2 separate regions of the Homo sapiens genome follow, and region 2 is linked to region 1. A link means that fine-mapping ties the variant in region 1 to the expression of a gene that starts in the linked region. Tissue or cell type: sun-exposed skin. Region 1 holds a variant in brackets; the other region holds the start of a gene. All regions are shown on one strand. Distances are between the middles of the regions.

The links. PIP is the estimated chance that this variant, and not a neighbour inherited with it, causes the effect.
Region 2: it holds the start of FZD8, and the variant in region 1 is fine-mapped to the expression of FZD8 in sun-exposed skin (GTEx, PIP above 0.99). The same link has a PIP of 0.9 or more in unexposed skin.

The regions. Positions count from the first base shown.
Region 1 is chr10:35,884,311-35,892,457 of GRCh38, reverse strand. No RefSeq gene overlaps it. Among named protein-coding and RNA genes, the nearest start is that of LINC02630, 10 kb to the left of the region's middle. The variant G/A (reference allele first, on the strand shown) is at 4,485.
Region 2 is chr10:35,639,170-35,647,291 of GRCh38, reverse strand. FZD8 (frizzled class receptor 8) reads left to right here and starts at 4,996. Exons shown (of 1, transcript NM_031866.3): 1 at 4,996-8,122. The coding sequence starts at 5,863. The coding sequence ends at 7,947. It overlaps LOC124902528 (zinc finger protein 469-like), which reads left to right and starts at 4,446. Exons shown (of 2, transcript XM_047426128.1): 1 at 4,446-4,662; 2 at 4,879-5,564. The coding sequence starts at 4,446. The coding sequence ends at 5,564. It overlaps MIR4683 (microRNA 4683), which reads left to right and starts at 6,040; the gene lies at 6,040-6,120. LOC105376494 (a long non-coding RNA gene) reads right to left here and starts at 3,977. Exons shown (of 2, transcript XR_930820.3): 1 at 2,376-3,977; 2 at 1-392. RefSeq lists silencers at 6,448-6,537, 7,077-7,371 and enhancers at 6,648-6,807, 7,627-8,122.

The DNA of each region.
Region 1 (8,147 bases):
TGTAGCCGCCAATCTTCCTCCAGCAGACGTGGCACAATACGAACAGTAAAGTATAGAACGTTCTGCCTATAATGAAGATACAAAGCCAGACTCGCTGGCTGCTGCTCATTTTTTAAGAATTGGCTCTTAGAACCCAAGTGTACCACATTTTGCTGAAATAAGCAACTGACTTCTATAGTCAAAGTTGAAACCCCAAAAACCTATTTCTTGGACTCATAGCTGCTGTCATTTAGCAAGAAGGAAGGGTCTCCATCCTATCCAAATTCCTAGTGTATTGGATTTCTACATATAAGGCATACGCACCCTTTAAATGCAAATAAATATTCCATTCTTTGCTCTATAACCAAAAAGGTACTCTTGACAATGCACCAAATGGGACCATTTTTTTCATTAATTCCTTCTAGAAGACAGTTTTCTTTAAAGATTTTGCGTAGTAGCTTATTGCATAAAGAAAAAACCATAATGATTTTAAAGAGGTAGCATTTTATGTAGTTTCAATTTTTAAAACTAAAACAAAAATATGGGTAAATATGTTATTAAAATAGTAAAGAATGGAATGTCACGATAGCTTATATTTGCACAACTCCTTTCAGTTGACAAAAAAAAAATCTTATAAATCTTTACAGCAGTTCTTTGGATAAGGCAGGGAAGGTATTATTATCACTCACAGCCCACCAGCAACTCTTATTCTCTGCTGAGAAACTGTAAAGTAATTAGAGACTGCAGATTAAAATACCATAATAAAAATTTCAAATTGAATTGGAGATTGTGTTAAACTAAAATGTGACTGAAACTGCCACTGATATATGTAGCTATCATCCTAACTGCTCTGGTCACTTTTATTGGCTAACTAGAAATTTCTAATCAAAAATTTATCTAATCCTTACTAGTGTTCATTTATAAGCAACCACAGAGCCACGTGAGAAGCCTGGGGTCACCTCTGTTATCCAGCATGTGCAATCCATAATAACCCAACAATTTAATAGAAATATTTTCTATCAAAGAAAGTTTACCAGAATGATTTCTGCCTTATATTGTGCACATATACCAGGCCATGCTGGTGATCCTTAGCAATTCTGGTAAGGTTTTAGAAAACTGCTTTATCAGGAGGCTTACCAAATAAACCACAGATTATTTCACAGAACATTTCACAGAACAGCATCAGAAAGAAACTTTCCAGGGTTTAGCAAAAAGATACAGGCAAGGAACACAGGCTGAAATAAGGAATTGGCAGCTCCAGAAGAAGAGGGAGACAGAGAAGCACATGCCCTCCCAGGGTTCATTCTACCTCTTGAACTGCTGGTAGTAAAGTTAATCTGTAAATGCTTTGAGGTGATTAAGAAGCTGGGCATCACTCTAAATGTAAATAAGTCCCGTTTCATTTCCTGGAAGCTGACTCTGATTGGGGCAGTCACCAGCTACTTAGCCTGCCGATAAATTTAAGATCCACAGTCTAGCTCCTAATTAACCTTGTCTTCTTATGAAGTCAAAGCTTAGCAAACTCATTTGTAAATACAAGCACACCCAGAGACCTCATTCTCCACAAGTTCAGGGAGGAAAAGTTGGTTTGTTATACATAGAAAGCCATGTTAAAATCTGAAAGCCTTGTGTTGATGATGGATTGCTTACCAAATATTTGGTAGAAGGTGATGTCATTTCCTTCAACCAACAAATCTGAAAAGTAATTTGAAAGAACATTCTAGCAATTGAATTTTGGTCCTTTTTCTGATAACAAGATTTCTGTCCCTTCAACTTACAGCTTCTGGAAGGAGACAATGAATTATTTATTTCCCACTCACTTGCTCGCTCTCTCTGCGTAGGCCCTGTTCATTCCTCTATCTTATCGTAATAAGCCAGGTCACCTCTGAACTGAACTGAAATCACGACTGTTCAGTGTTGCCTGCTTTATGGGTCTGGATGGCCTACTTTATATTGTTTGTTCTTCACTGAAGTTGGTGTGCTGGTGTAAGATTGTATAACTGCTTTACCCCGGGAACCCTCATAAAAATGAGAGGGTTGGCTCATAAAACTATCCCACTGTGCAAAACTGTAAATAACTTCCTTAGAGGCAGGACAAATTCAAGGCTGCAGAAAGTGCATACTTTCAGGGCCAGAGAACAGAACCATCCCCTCTCAAGTTGGTGCCTCTGCGAGCGGCTGCGGTCCTGCTTGTCCTGGGAATCGCAATGCCAATTGTTCTCTCCATGTTTTGCAACTCAACACCATTTCCTCACGCCTATTTTCCTTGTTTCCGCTTTGCCACTGTTTGCAGACACAGGAAGAGGTCAGTGGGCTCAGATGAGGACAAGGCCCCTGCCGGAGCACAGTCATGTTTATGGGCCGAGTGATGATCCATCACCCTCACTCTGTTTACGTGAGGGATTCCATAAATAAACAGTCCCTGTACAGCTGCTGTTTTTGCTATCTGTTTTCAGGATTCAGAATGGTGTTCTAGTACAACTAGAGTCTGATGCTGGTGTATTGAGCGGAAGCGAATGTGGGGATTCTTTACCAGCCTGTATTGTGTACCACACTTTCATACCCAGTACCCTGAAACACACGGAGTAGCTTCTTCAGCGTCACTAAGAGCAACCGGCACTTCAAGCCAAAGTGGTTTTCTCCCCAGAGTATTTTCTTAGAATGCTCAAAAGAAGAAGTAGAATCCAGGGTGACTTCACAACTGCGGATACAGGGCAGGAAAAGGGTAGCATTTGGAGTCCGGGTGAGGAAAGAAAGTTCTTCCATCTACAGGTAGCATGAATTTAAGCCGCAAATTAATTGCAAGGTACATTTCACCTTCCCTAAAGCAGATACACCTGAGGGAGACCGTGGGCACAGCAGAAGCATAGAGCAGTGGTTCTCAAAGTGGGATCCCCATTAACAACATCTGGGGACTTATTGGAAATGAGAATTCTCAGGCTTATAAATCACAGACTTTGAGAGCAGGGGCTAGAAAAGCATGTTTTTAAAAGCCCTCCAGGCATTTTGATGCAGCTAAAGTTGGAGAACCAGTCCTAGAAACAGCACAGCATACAGCAAGGTTAGAGTCCATCCTCAAACTGCTGTGTGCCAGCCCGGGCTCTGCTGACCTTGACCAAGTGATGTAATTCTTGAAACCTCAGTTTTCATCTGGAAAACAGGCAGTAACAATTAAGCTGTTGGGACCATTTTGTGAATGTATTTTGCCTGTTACACACTTAATATAGTGTCTACTGATTAAAATACTCCACGAATAATAGTTGTCATTGCTTTTATTCCTTTGGAAACACTAGGACTGGAACAAAGTATACACTCAATAAATGAGATGAACAAAGGAATCCATGAATGAATGTCAGGACTCTAGGTGGTTAGCTTGTGTTGAGAAGAAAGATGCTAATGGCACTATATAACTAGACCTCTGCATTTTAGAGAAGCATTTAGAAACATACTGTTCTCTGAGACCTTGTGAACAGCAAATGCATTTAACAAATAGAAAAGGTAGGAAAAGAGGAAGGAAAGAGAAAAGAGAAGGGAATGGAAAGGGTAAGAATTGGGGTAGTTTTTCTGCATCCCATTTTATATGCAGACTGTGGCTCAGAGCATTTATTTCTCCAAGTATCTACCCTAGAGCTGTGAAATCCATAATGCCGTTAGGGATTTATTTCTCTTTCCCTCTACCCTTCTCCCTTCAGTTGAGGGCAACTTGTTCCTGATGAAGAGCTACTTTTTGTTCCCCCAAATTCTGACGCTTGCTGGGGAGGAGTGCTCAAACGGGGAAATTGGCGAGGGGTTCTGAGAGTGCCAGGTAATGGGATGAAAGAGGTGGGGCCCAGGGGCTCTTGAGGGAGCTCCGAGGACAACTGATTGGGATCACAGGGAGCATCTGCTCATGGGATTATAGGGGTGTCTGCTTATGGGATCACAGAGGTTGTTTGATCATGAAATTACGGGGGGTGTCTGATTATGACTTCAGAAAACAATGTCACCACACCCACATCAGGTTTGAAGTTAGATCAGAAAAGGCAAGGAGAGACTGTATTTTGAGAGCAAAAGAAATTTATAGTGACAGGAGACAACCAAATGCCTGGGCAGATAGGGGTGGCTCCTGGTGAAACCCCACCTCCAAGCCGAAGACAGTTTAAAGCCTGAAAGCCAAGCTACCAGTTAAATCCTCAGACTAGGTTGAGAACTTGTCTTCCCATTTGGTGTGTTTTCCTCTGATTGGTCCCCACCCTTCACCTATTTTACATATACCTACTCTTATTTAATTGGTTTTTCTACACTGTCATGCCCACATTTAAGTGGTGCCTTCACTTTAACTTTTTTGGCATATTCACAAACCAATTAGCACGCAATCCCCATTCTGAGTTCATAAAAAGCCCTGGACCCAGCCACACGCAGAACTTTCTCACCTTTGGGTAGGGGGACCACCCCCATGTCCCCTCTCAGCTGAAAGCTGTTTTATCACTCAATAAAATTCTTCTCCACCCTCCTCACCGTTCAAT[G/A]TCCAGCATATCTTCATTCTTCTTGGGCGTGGTACAGGAGCTTGGGAACTGCTGAACGTAGGTACAAGCTGTAACACAGGCAAGCTGGGGCATGCCAGCATGCAAGCAGGGCCCACGTGGGGCATCACCAGCCAGAAGTCCCTGGCTTGCAAAGTGACCAACAAGAAAAATCATACATCAAAAGCTGAGGCAGCTGCAGAATGTTAAAAGGTGCATGTCAAAACGAGTTTAGCTGAGCATTTCTTCATTTTTCTTCCCATATCAGGCCTATAGGAGGAGTCAAAAAAACAACAAATAAAAGAATCTATATGAATTGTGAGGGAAAGACACTTCTTGAAAGTCAGAAGCATAGCACTCTGAAGGAAGATCCCCGGCTCACCCCAAGGCTTGAGGCAACAGAGCTCCCTGCTTTTAATGACATATTTGCAGCAGGGTCTTTGTGGCTATGACCCACAACCGCCATTCCACCTTCCCCAGCCCTGCCCTGAGTCCAGTTTCTGCAGATAAAGCACCCCAAGAGCCATGACTTCTTTTGATGAGACTTCCTTCATAAAGGATACAACTGTGAGTCAGGATATAAACTCCCTCCAAGTTAGGTTAATTGTAAGCCAACATAGTAGACACAAGATGTTGTTTATCCTCAGTAGAAGGATGTCTTAACTGAATTCCTCCCCTCTGGTCACCACAGATTTTGAGCATCTGAAACTATTTGATCAAACAACTCTTCTACATGAAAGAGATTTCTGCTCTTCTTCCCTGAAAGTTATTTGTCCTCACCTGGCCCCAGTGAGCAATTTCCATCCCTTTGCTCCCACCCCCAGCCCCTATCCAAGATCAACTTTCCTCTAGAAAGGAGGCTACAACCAAGAGCATTTGCATCCTTAGTGCTGAGAATGTTGACGGTGCTCAGCCAGTGGCTGGTTGGGTGGCAGATCCTTAGAGCACAAATCGTTTCTACGGAATGAAAACCCTTTTCTCTTTTCTGAAGTCCTTTTCATTCTTACCTCCAACCCTGCTAATTTTGGTCTTTACTATTCTCTATGCAGAATCATCAAGCGTGGGCTATATAGAAAATCATCCCCTGCTAACCCACCAACGCTATCAGACACAGAATAAGTGCAGGGGGGACCAGAAGGAGGAGTGACAAATTTCTCTTCTAATAGTTATTATCCAATAACAAGGAAGTGAATACTCTAAAGCCAACATAAATAAATGAATAAATACATAAATAAATAACAAGTACCCATGCTCAGCTTAGAAATTCAGCCCTTTATGATAAAAATCCTTTATCAGAGAGCCTCGCATAATATATTTGTGTTTCCCTGTGCTCGCCTCCTCATTTTATTAATATAAATGACCAAAGGCAACATAGAGGAGATATCATTCACTGTACTAAAGTAGGAATCTAGTAAGTGAGAAATTCAGTACTCAATAATTGTTAGCAGTAGAGCTAACTCGTGAGGGGTGGGATCAAGGTCACTGAGGTCTTCTCCCTTCTCACAGTCTTTTAGGGAGTTAGTACTTAACATTTCTTGTGGAAATGCAATTATAATTGAGGAATACATAAGGTGCTCTGTAAATGTAATGTTACCAGGTCAACCATAAGAACCCATATCTCTGAGGAAATAACATCCTCCGTGCCTTCATTATGTCACTGTCATTGGCTGAAACAATAAAAGTAAAACAGTAATTGTGGCTGTGTGGACAGTGATTAAAAACAGGCTCAGCAGTGAAACAAATGTGTGATTGAATGTTGGCTCCACTTATCAGAGCCTCAGTTTTCTCAGCTGGAAACTGGGATAATAATTATTCCCCTCAAAGGGTCACTGTGATGATAAAAGAACACACTGTTGCCCAGCATGGTGGTGCACATCTGCAATGGCAGCTACTCGGGAGGCCAAGGTGGGAGAATCACTTGAGCCCAGGGGTTTGAGGCCAGCCTGGGAAACATAGCAAGAGCCCATCTCTTGAAACAAAAAACATACACACAGACACAACCATGGGAACAACAAACACTGGGGATTCTAAAAAGAGGGAGGAAAAGAGAGGGGCAAGGGTTGAAAAACTACCTATTGGGTACTATGTTCACTGTGTGGGCGATGGGATCAATAGAAGCCCAAACTTCACATCATACAATATTCCCATGTAACAAACCTGCACACATACCCTGTGAATCTAAAATAGAAAATAAAATAACTTTTTTCAAATAATAACAATAAATATTATAAAGAATAAAGAATACACTGTACACCTAGCACAATTCCTGACACCTCGTGAATATTTATTTGTGATTTACTACTTTTGCAGTTTTACAAAGAGCTTGCATTTACACTGTCCTAGTTGAGAGACAAATGAGGAAATTATTTTACAAGTTAAAATAAAAATGAAATCAGATAGATGAGCTGACCTACATTTGATCACACAGCACGTGGTAGAGTCAGCACTTAAGTCCAGGGTTCCTGACTAAAATACATGCACCTTTTACTACATGATTTTTTACCTTCATAATAATATAAAGTGCTTTTATGGTTAACATAAAGTTATCTTCCCTGATTCTAACAGGTATCACATAAAACAGGCGAGGTGGACATTATATTTTTGCAATTTGACAAATGAGAAACCAAGTTAGGGAGGGAAGTTTGCTAAGGATGACACAACTGGTTAGGGAGCAGTGCAGCACCTTCAACCAGGCCTGTAAGCTCTTAATCCTCTTTCCACTAAACCAGCCAACACCTCTGAAAGAAGAAACAAACTCTTCGTTAAACTACGTGGAATCAAATATTTCCATTAGTTACCCGTGTTCTAAAAATGTTCAAACATTAACTGTTTTCAATCTGCAGAAGGTGCTTCCGGCAAATCATTTCAAGGGGAGTTAACCTTCCAGGACTTTTTAAAGGACAATTTATAAACAAAGGCACGGAAAGATAAGCTATCTCATACAAATGTGTCATGCAAGGTTTCGCCTAATCTCTGGCTGTCACTTTGCAGACTGTGGAGTTGGGTTGGAGGCGTGGGGAGGCATGCACAGAAGGAGGCGTGCATCCAGGTGGCCGCTCGCTCAGGAGCCACCTGGGCTGGAGGAGCAGCCTGTCCCCAGGCAGGAGCCCTGGGGACAGGCTACTCATTCAGGTGCCCCAGATAGCCATTATCAGAGGGGTGTGGTGCAGTGGTGCTCTGCATGCAGCCCAGGAGAGGAGACGCTGCGGCACAGCAGGAGCACTCCTAATTCTGTAACCAACAAATGAAAGAGCAGAGAAAAACCAGCAGGAAACCTTTCATTCGGGGTATCTCTAATTTGTGCAATTATATAAATGCCTTATGCTGCTCTCCTTAGATTCGGTGCTGCTGTGGGACACTGAATATTAAAACTGCCTGACAAGGCTCACGTGGAATATTTGTTATGAGTTTATTTGGAAAACTGGGGGTCTGGAGGGTGAAAAGGGCTTTATTAAATTTAAATATACCATAGTTTTGGAATCTTTTATTTCTGTTCCATTGTCTGAATTGGACTGAAGTGGAATGGGACGTTTGTTATTTCTGTACTGCCATCCGGTTTTGCAATGAATTTTATACAGACTGACAATCCTTAGAGTTATTTCCATGCAACAAGCAAGATCAAAGAAGGCAAGTGGATGGTTTGACAATAATGGGGAAGGGAGAAGA
Region 2 (8,122 bases), 250 kb after region 1:
ACTGACGGTGAAATGTCTGCTTCTAGACTTATTGATATGTTGAGATGTCCTTCTTGGCTAAGCCACTTTTACCCGGGAGGTCTTTACTGGACCTGAAATCTACCAAACTAATGCACAATGCATGCCATAATAAGAGCTTCAATATCTGGCAAATATTCCCATGTGGATGAGAAAAAAAATCAATTATTGATTTTTAAAACAAATTTTAGAATAATTATCAACTTAAATAATGGCAGTGCGGTCGCCGTATTCCAAAGCAGCAGCTGCATGTAAAGTGAGCATGGGCCTGCCAGCCAGTGGCACAGGTGGGCCTGTTATCTCCATCCATGTGCACCTTGGCCTGGTGACAGCAGACACAGCAAAGAGTACTTCCTTCCAACAGGATCTCTTTCCTGGCAGTGGAGAGAACAGAAGCAGCAGCACTTCAATTGAGTTTCATGTTAATAAGGAAGAATATAAAAATAATCTCACCTGTTTAAAGCTAGCAGAGATTGATGAGGCCAGTTCACCTCTACCTCCCCTTCCATTTATGGACTGAGAGACTCAAGACATAACCCTTTGAAAGGCAGATTTTTAAAACACCAAGATGCCCCAATATTACCATTAGAGGTTTTGTTATTGTTGTTGTGGGTTTTGTCTTTTTTTTTTTTTTTTTTTTTTTTTTGAGACAGGGTCTCTTTCTATTACCTAACCTGGAGTACAGGCATGATCACGGCTCACTACAGCCTCAAACTCATGGACTCAAGCGATCCTCCCACCTCAGCGCCTCAAGTAGCTGGGACCACAGGTGCGTGCTACAGGCCCGACTAATTTTTTTTTTTGTTTTAGACAGACTCTTACTGTGTTGCCCAGGTTGGAGTGCAGTGGCAAAATCTCAGCTCACTGCAACCTCTGCCTCCCAGGTTCAAGCAATTCTCTTGCCTGAGTCTCCCAAGTAGCTGGGATTACAGGCACCCACCACCATGTCCAGCTAATTTTTGTATTTTTGGCAGAGACAAGGATTCCCCATGTTAGCCAGGCTGGTCTCGAACTCCTGACCTCTAGTGATCCTCTGACCTCGGCTTCCCAAAGTGCTAGGATTACAGGCGTGAACAACCACCGTGCCTGGCCTTGTTTTTTTGTTGTTTTTTTTGTTGTTGTTGTTGTTTTGTTTTTGGTTTTTTTTTTTTTGGTAGACTCGGGTCTTACTATGTTGCTCAGACTGCTCTCCAACTCCTGGCCTCAAGCGATCCTTCCACCTTGGCCTCCCAAAGCACTAAGACAAACGTAAGCCACTGAGCCCAGCCAGTGATAAGAATTTTATATTATCTAATAATATAGTACTTAACTGTTTTCTTGAGAGAAAATAATATTTGGCATTTATTTATTTAGAGACAGGGTCTTACTCTGTTGCCCAGGCTGGAGTGCAGTGATACAGTCATGGCTCACTGCAGCCCCAGCCTCCAAAACTCAAGTGATCCTCCCACCTCAGCCTCTGGTGTAGCTGGGACTACAGGCACATGCCACCGCACCCAGCTCATGTTTGTATTTTTTGTAGAGACAGGGTTTTGCTATGTTGCCCAGGCTGGTCTCGAACTCCTAGACTCAAGCGATCTGCCTGCCTCAGCGTCCCAAAGTGCTGGGATTACAGGCATGAGTCACCGTATCTGGCCAATATTTGGCAGTTTATAACACCTGAGAAATTGTATTAGTTACCAAAGAGTTCCTCATTTAATCTTTGGAACGTATCATTCTGTTAGTATATGCCAGGCTCTCTCTTCCATCCAGATTCTTATATTGGATTTTTAGATGGTAATCCACTGGAACATGATTTCCCCAAAGTTTCTTAAATTTGTTACAGACAGTATTGATAGTCCCCTGTCTAACTCGGTAGCCAACGTTTTGTAAAACCTTCCCTCCTCTGAGGTAGATTCCTGATTCCAACTGTTTACATTATTTGCTTGCAGGCCATTCAGCAACAAGCCATCTGCTCAGAAATCCCTTTAGAAACTTCCCTACATTATTTATGTCACTACTAAAGCTATTTCCCCTCCCCTAAAAAACAGCTGCTTTACATACAATGAAAATATCATTATTTAGCCATAGAAGTTGATATATGTTCTGGTTACTTCTAGGTAACCCATCATTACCTTTTACGCACTAATTGGCTACAGAAGTCTCTCCCTTCTCTGAAAGACTACCAAGTAGCCGTTTAATTTAACAGTAGATGTAAAATGCGATTCTTATATTCTCTCAATTAAAAGTACATTTGTCATGACTTTTATGTAACTGGTTTTAACCTCACAAATCACTAAGATCTCCCAAATAGCTGATATGATTTTTGAAATTCTGAACTTCAGTCTGCTTATTTTCTCATGCAAACTTAACATACTTACCCAAAATTTCCACATTCCACATCATCAAACTTTTCATCTTGTCTCAAAAGAAAAAAGAAAAAAAATTTAAAGCCAATTAAGAGCCAAAATCAACCATTTTCAGCTTCAATTTCAATTTTCAAATGTCAGTTTGTTTTTACCCAATTCTAGCAAATTTATGTAGTGTAATTCTAAACTTCACTATTTGACATTTCCCCGTGGAAGAAAAGCAACAGAAACTTTTCACCATCTGTGTTGCTCTTGGAAACCAGCCCCTCCCATCTGTGGTGCGGGCAGTGCAGCACCCTTGCTGGTCTTTGGGGCTCTGCCTGCACCGCTGCCCTCAGATCAGCACTGGAACCTCTGGCAATTACCTGCAGCTGATGCGTTCTGGAGACTCGCCCTCTGGAAACAAGGTGCCAACCGCAGAGATAGTGAATTTCTACATTCAACATACAAGTGGGAATTCCGATTTGCAGGAGGTGAGAAAAGAAAAAAAATTTTTTAATCAAGTAAAGGTCTAGTCTGTATTTTTGAATAGCCCGTTTTCTGCTGAATCAGCTAATATTTCTGAAGCCTTTGAATTCCGAATTCCTACGGACTTTAGTTTTTCCAAAACAAAAGTGGGAAGGAAGTGTTGTTTTTCAGTATAAAGAGGTTCAACTCTATAGACTAAAACTAAAAAAGTTAAAAAGATAGGGGGGTATAACTATAGATTGGTGGATATGCCTAGAACACAGAACTTGCCAAAAACGGGGCGCTGGGGCAGGGTGCGGTCTGACAGTCTACTTGTAATATGTTTCATAATGAGGTTGCTAACTGAGCTACAGAAAGCAGGAGGAGGAAGACATAGATGCCATCAGCTCAAGCAATCTACAAATACTGCTGGTTATTTTTGTTTTATGACAAGAGTTGTTTCTGAACGGACAACCACGAGCTACCACCACCACCAGCAGCGCCCCGAAAACCGGAACTGGCCTCAAATGTACTTTTAATTCTTTTGCTCTGTCCCCACGCCCTCTGCAACTTTTGTTCTCCAACTGTACTTGTTCCGGTATGAAACCTGGCAAATAGCAAAAATCTTGAAACAAGAAGAGAGTGAGAGAGCGGAGAGAAAAGGGAGGGAAGGAAGGAGAGGGAGGAGGGGAAGAGGAGGAGGGGGGAGAGAAAGTGGTGGGGGAGAGAGAGAAGGAAAGGAGGTGGGGAGAGAGAGAGAGGGAAGACAGAAGAGAGGCAGGGAGGAAGAGGGAGAGAGGGGGACGGAGATGGGGAGGAGGCGGGAGGGAGGGAGAGAAAGAGAGAGAGAAACATATTCTGCCACCCTCCTGGCTAACTGAAATGCTTGTTCCCGAGATTACAGTAATTACTGCCCCAGCATGAGTTCCATACAAGCGCTAAATGAAACAGCACATCAATTAAAAAATAAACACTCCATTCTAGGAGAAAGACAGCCCCCTGGGACGCCCTAACAAGCGTAAATGAACCTGCCAGGCCGCCGGCCCGGGCCGCCCGCAGCCCCCCTCCCGGCCCGTCTTAAGGTGGCGGCGGAGCCGGCGGGGGCAGCGTTCGCTGGCGGTGGCCCAAGCGGCTGCTAAAAGCAGCCCGGGTCCGGCTCCGGCCTCGTGCAGAGAGCAGATACGTGTCGCGGAGTCCACGCCAGAGCGCAGCGCCGCCTCCCACCAGAGAAAAGGAGGCTCTGGCAAAAGCCTGTGAACTTGGGATGGATGAATAGACGTCCTGAAAGAACGAAGGGAAGACAGGGAATCCAGCCCCAGAGTTTCCAGCCTGTCCTATTTATAAGTTTCGAGGTTTGTTTTGAATTTTAGAAAGAAATTGAATGATTTTTCCTAAGAAAGCACGGCGGCTCGGGGCTTCCTATATTTTATCTCACCTAATTATCAAAGCCCCCTTGGAGATCTGTGCTATGATCACCCAACTCTCTAGGTGGGGAAACTGAGGCTCCCCCAGGTCACGCAGCGGAGGCGGGAGGAGAGTCTCTGGCGGGCATTTGTCCCCCGCGCCCCTCGCGCGCCCAAGGCTGGGCTCCGGGGCATCTCACCCGGGCCGTCCCGGGTCCAGCCCCAGTTTAGAATGACTCCACACCCCCCACATCTCCAAGTCTCAGAAACCATCGTTCTGAGAACCCCAAGGAGGACACCCTTTCCCGGGTCTTCTGCAGCGCCGAGCCCCGGCAGGCCTCCCCGGCGCTCGCCTGCTGCGAGACCTTCCTGCCGCCCCGAGGAGCACGAGACCCCAGCCGCCTGCAGATCACCCACATTTGCGGAGGGTGGCAGCAGGGGCTTGGCTGGTTTGAAACGCGCCGGGGAGGCGCGCGCTGCACCAAACCCCGTCCCTGTCCCCAAGGGCAGACTCGGGGTAAGGGGACCAAGACCTCCGACGCACTCAGCGCCATGGGGACAGCCATGGCCAACACTCTGTCTCTGCGGTCAATCCCAAGGTTACCAAAACTCTCCATCCGCAGAGAGCGCGCACAGCAGTGCGGACACTCGGGGACTGCCTTAAGGAAGGCTGAGCCCTGGGAGCGCGTGGACTCCGCCCTACCGCCCGGCGATTGGCTCGCGGGGCTGGGGGCGGAGACCGAGTCCGCGCTGTATAAATATTCATGAGCCGGCAGCGCGGCGCGAGCGGGGCTGGAGCCGGGAAGTTGGGCTAAGGGCGCTGCTCCCGCCGAGGAGGAGGCGGCGGCTGGGCGCGGGCCGCGCCACTCAGGTGTCCGCTCCGCCTTCCGGTCTGGATTTGCTCCTGGGTGTCCAGCAGGAAGGAGACTGTGTGCACCTCGCCCGACTGCGGCCGGAGCGCGGCGCTGACTTTTCCAGGCGGCGGGGGTCCGTCTGTCCCGGCGGCGGACGGACGAAGGACGGACGCCGGAGAAAGAGGGCGGCGGCCTGGGCCGAGGCGGGTCCCCAACTCCGGCGGCGGCGGCGGCGGCTTGGCCTTGGGGGCGGGCATGAGCCCCCGGGGGCCGAGTGGTGGCCGCCAGGGCTGACCCGGCGCGGCAAGCGGCCCGGCCCAGCCATCTTGACTGCGCACCGCGGCCCCAGAGGAAACTTGCGGCGCCTCCGCCCTCTCTGTCCGGCGGAGTCACCGCCGCCCGGCGCGGCGGGGAGAAGTGGTCGGGCGCGCGGAGAGGAGGCGAGCGAGCGCGGGACGATGAGCCGAGGCCCGGCCGCTCTGCGCCGCGAGGGCTGAGCGCGACCCGGGGCCAGCAGAGCGGACCTACGGACTGTGGCGCGCGCCTGCAGCCGCCTTCAAACCCCCGGAGCGGCGGAAAGGAGTGCGGAAGGGCCCTGCCCAGGCTGCGGGCCGCGCCGCTGCGGACGCGCCCCTAGAAGGGGTTAGATTATCGGCAGACCCCCCTCCCGGGCGAAGCATAAGGGAGACCCCAGATCACCCGCTGTACCCGTCTGCGGCTCTCTCGTGGGCCCCCCCCCCGGCACCCCTCTGCGCGCCGCCTGGAGGGCGAGGGCACCGGGCCGAGGCGCACAGCATGGAGTGGGGTTACCTGTTGGAAGTGACCTCGCTGCTGGCCGCCTTGGCGCTGCTGCAGCGCTCTAGCGGCGCTGCGGCCGCCTCGGCCAAGGAGCTGGCATGCCAAGAGATCACCGTGCCGCTGTGTAAGGGCATCGGCTACAACTACACCTACATGCCCAATCAGTTCAACCACGACACGCAAGACGAGGCGGGCCTGGAGGTGCACCAGTTCTGGCCGCTGGTGGAGATCCAGTGCTCGCCCGATCTCAAGTTCTTCCTGTGCAGCATGTACACGCCCATCTGCCTAGAGGACTACAAGAAGCCGCTGCCGCCCTGCCGCTCGGTGTGCGAGCGCGCCAAGGCCGGCTGCGCGCCGCTCATGCGCCAGTACGGCTTCGCCTGGCCCGACCGCATGCGCTGCGACCGGCTGCCCGAGCAAGGCAACCCTGACACGCTGTGCATGGACTACAACCGCACCGACCTAACCACCGCCGCGCCCAGCCCGCCGCGCCGCCTGCCGCCGCCGCCGCCCGGCGAGCAGCCGCCTTCGGGCAGCGGCCACGGCCGCCCGCCGGGGGCCAGGCCCCCGCACCGCGGCGGCGGCAGGGGCGGTGGCGGCGGGGACGCGGCGGCGCCCCCAGCTCGCGGCGGCGGCGGTGGCGGGAAGGCGCGGCCCCCTGGCGGCGGCGCGGCTCCCTGCGAGCCCGGGTGCCAGTGCCGCGCGCCTATGGTGAGCGTGTCCAGCGAGCGCCACCCGCTCTACAACCGCGTCAAGACAGGCCAGATCGCTAACTGCGCGCTGCCCTGCCACAACCCCTTTTTCAGCCAGGACGAGCGCGCCTTCACCGTCTTCTGGATCGGCCTGTGGTCGGTGCTCTGCTTCGTGTCCACCTTCGCCACCGTCTCCACCTTCCTTATCGACATGGAGCGCTTCAAGTACCCGGAGCGGCCCATTATCTTCCTCTCGGCCTGCTACCTCTTCGTGTCGGTGGGCTACCTAGTGCGCCTGGTGGCGGGCCACGAGAAGGTGGCGTGCAGCGGTGGCGCGCCGGGCGCGGGGGGCGCTGGGGGCGCGGGCGGCGCGGCGGCGGGCGCGGGCGCGGCGGGCGCGGGCGCGGGCGGCCCGGGCGGGCGCGGCGAGTACGAGGAGCTGGGCGCGGTGGAGCAGCACGTGCGCTACGAGACCACCGGCCCCGCGCTGTGCACCGTGGTCTTCTTGCTGGTCTACTTCTTCGGCATGGCCAGCTCCATCTGGTGGGTGATCTTGTCGCTCACATGGTTCCTGGCGGCCGGTATGAAGTGGGGCAACGAAGCCATCGCCGGCTACTCGCAGTACTTCCACCTGGCCGCGTGGCTTGTGCCCAGCGTCAAGTCCATCGCGGTGCTGGCGCTCAGCTCGGTGGACGGCGACCCGGTGGCGGGCATCTGCTACGTGGGCAACCAGAGCCTGGACAACCTGCGCGGCTTCGTGCTGGCGCCGCTGGTCATCTACCTCTTCATCGGCACCATGTTCCTGCTGGCCGGCTTCGTGTCCCTCTTCCGCATCCGCTCGGTCATCAAGCAACAGGACGGCCCCACCAAGACGCACAAGCTGGAGAAGCTGATGATCCGCCTGGGCCTGTTCACCGTGCTCTACACCGTGCCCGCCGCGGTGGTGGTCGCCTGCCTCTTCTACGAGCAGCACAACCGCCCGCGCTGGGAGGCCACGCACAACTGCCCGTGCCTGCGGGACCTGCAGCCCGACCAGGCACGCAGGCCCGACTACGCCGTCTTCATGCTCAAGTACTTCATGTGCCTAGTGGTGGGCATCACCTCGGGCGTGTGGGTCTGGTCCGGCAAGACGCTGGAGTCCTGGCGCTCCCTGTGCACCCGCTGCTGCTGGGCCAGCAAGGGCGCCGCGGTGGGCGGGGGCGCGGGCGCCACGGCCGCGGGGGGTGGCGGCGGGCCGGGGGGCGGCGGCGGCGGGGGACCCGGCGGCGGCGGGGGGCCGGGCGGCGGCGGGGGCTCCCTCTACAGCGACGTCAGCACTGGCCTGACGTGGCGGTCGGGCACGGCGAGCTCCGTGTCTTATCCAAAGCAGATGCCATTGTCCCAGGTCTGAGCGGAGGGGAGGGGGCGCCCAGGAGGGGTGGGGAGGGGGGCGAGGAGAGCCAAGTGCAGCGAAGGGACACTTGATGGGCTGAGGTTCCCACCCCTTCACAGTGTTGATTGCTATTAGCATGATAATGAACTCTTAATGGTATCCATTAGCTGGGACTTAAATGACTCACTTAGAA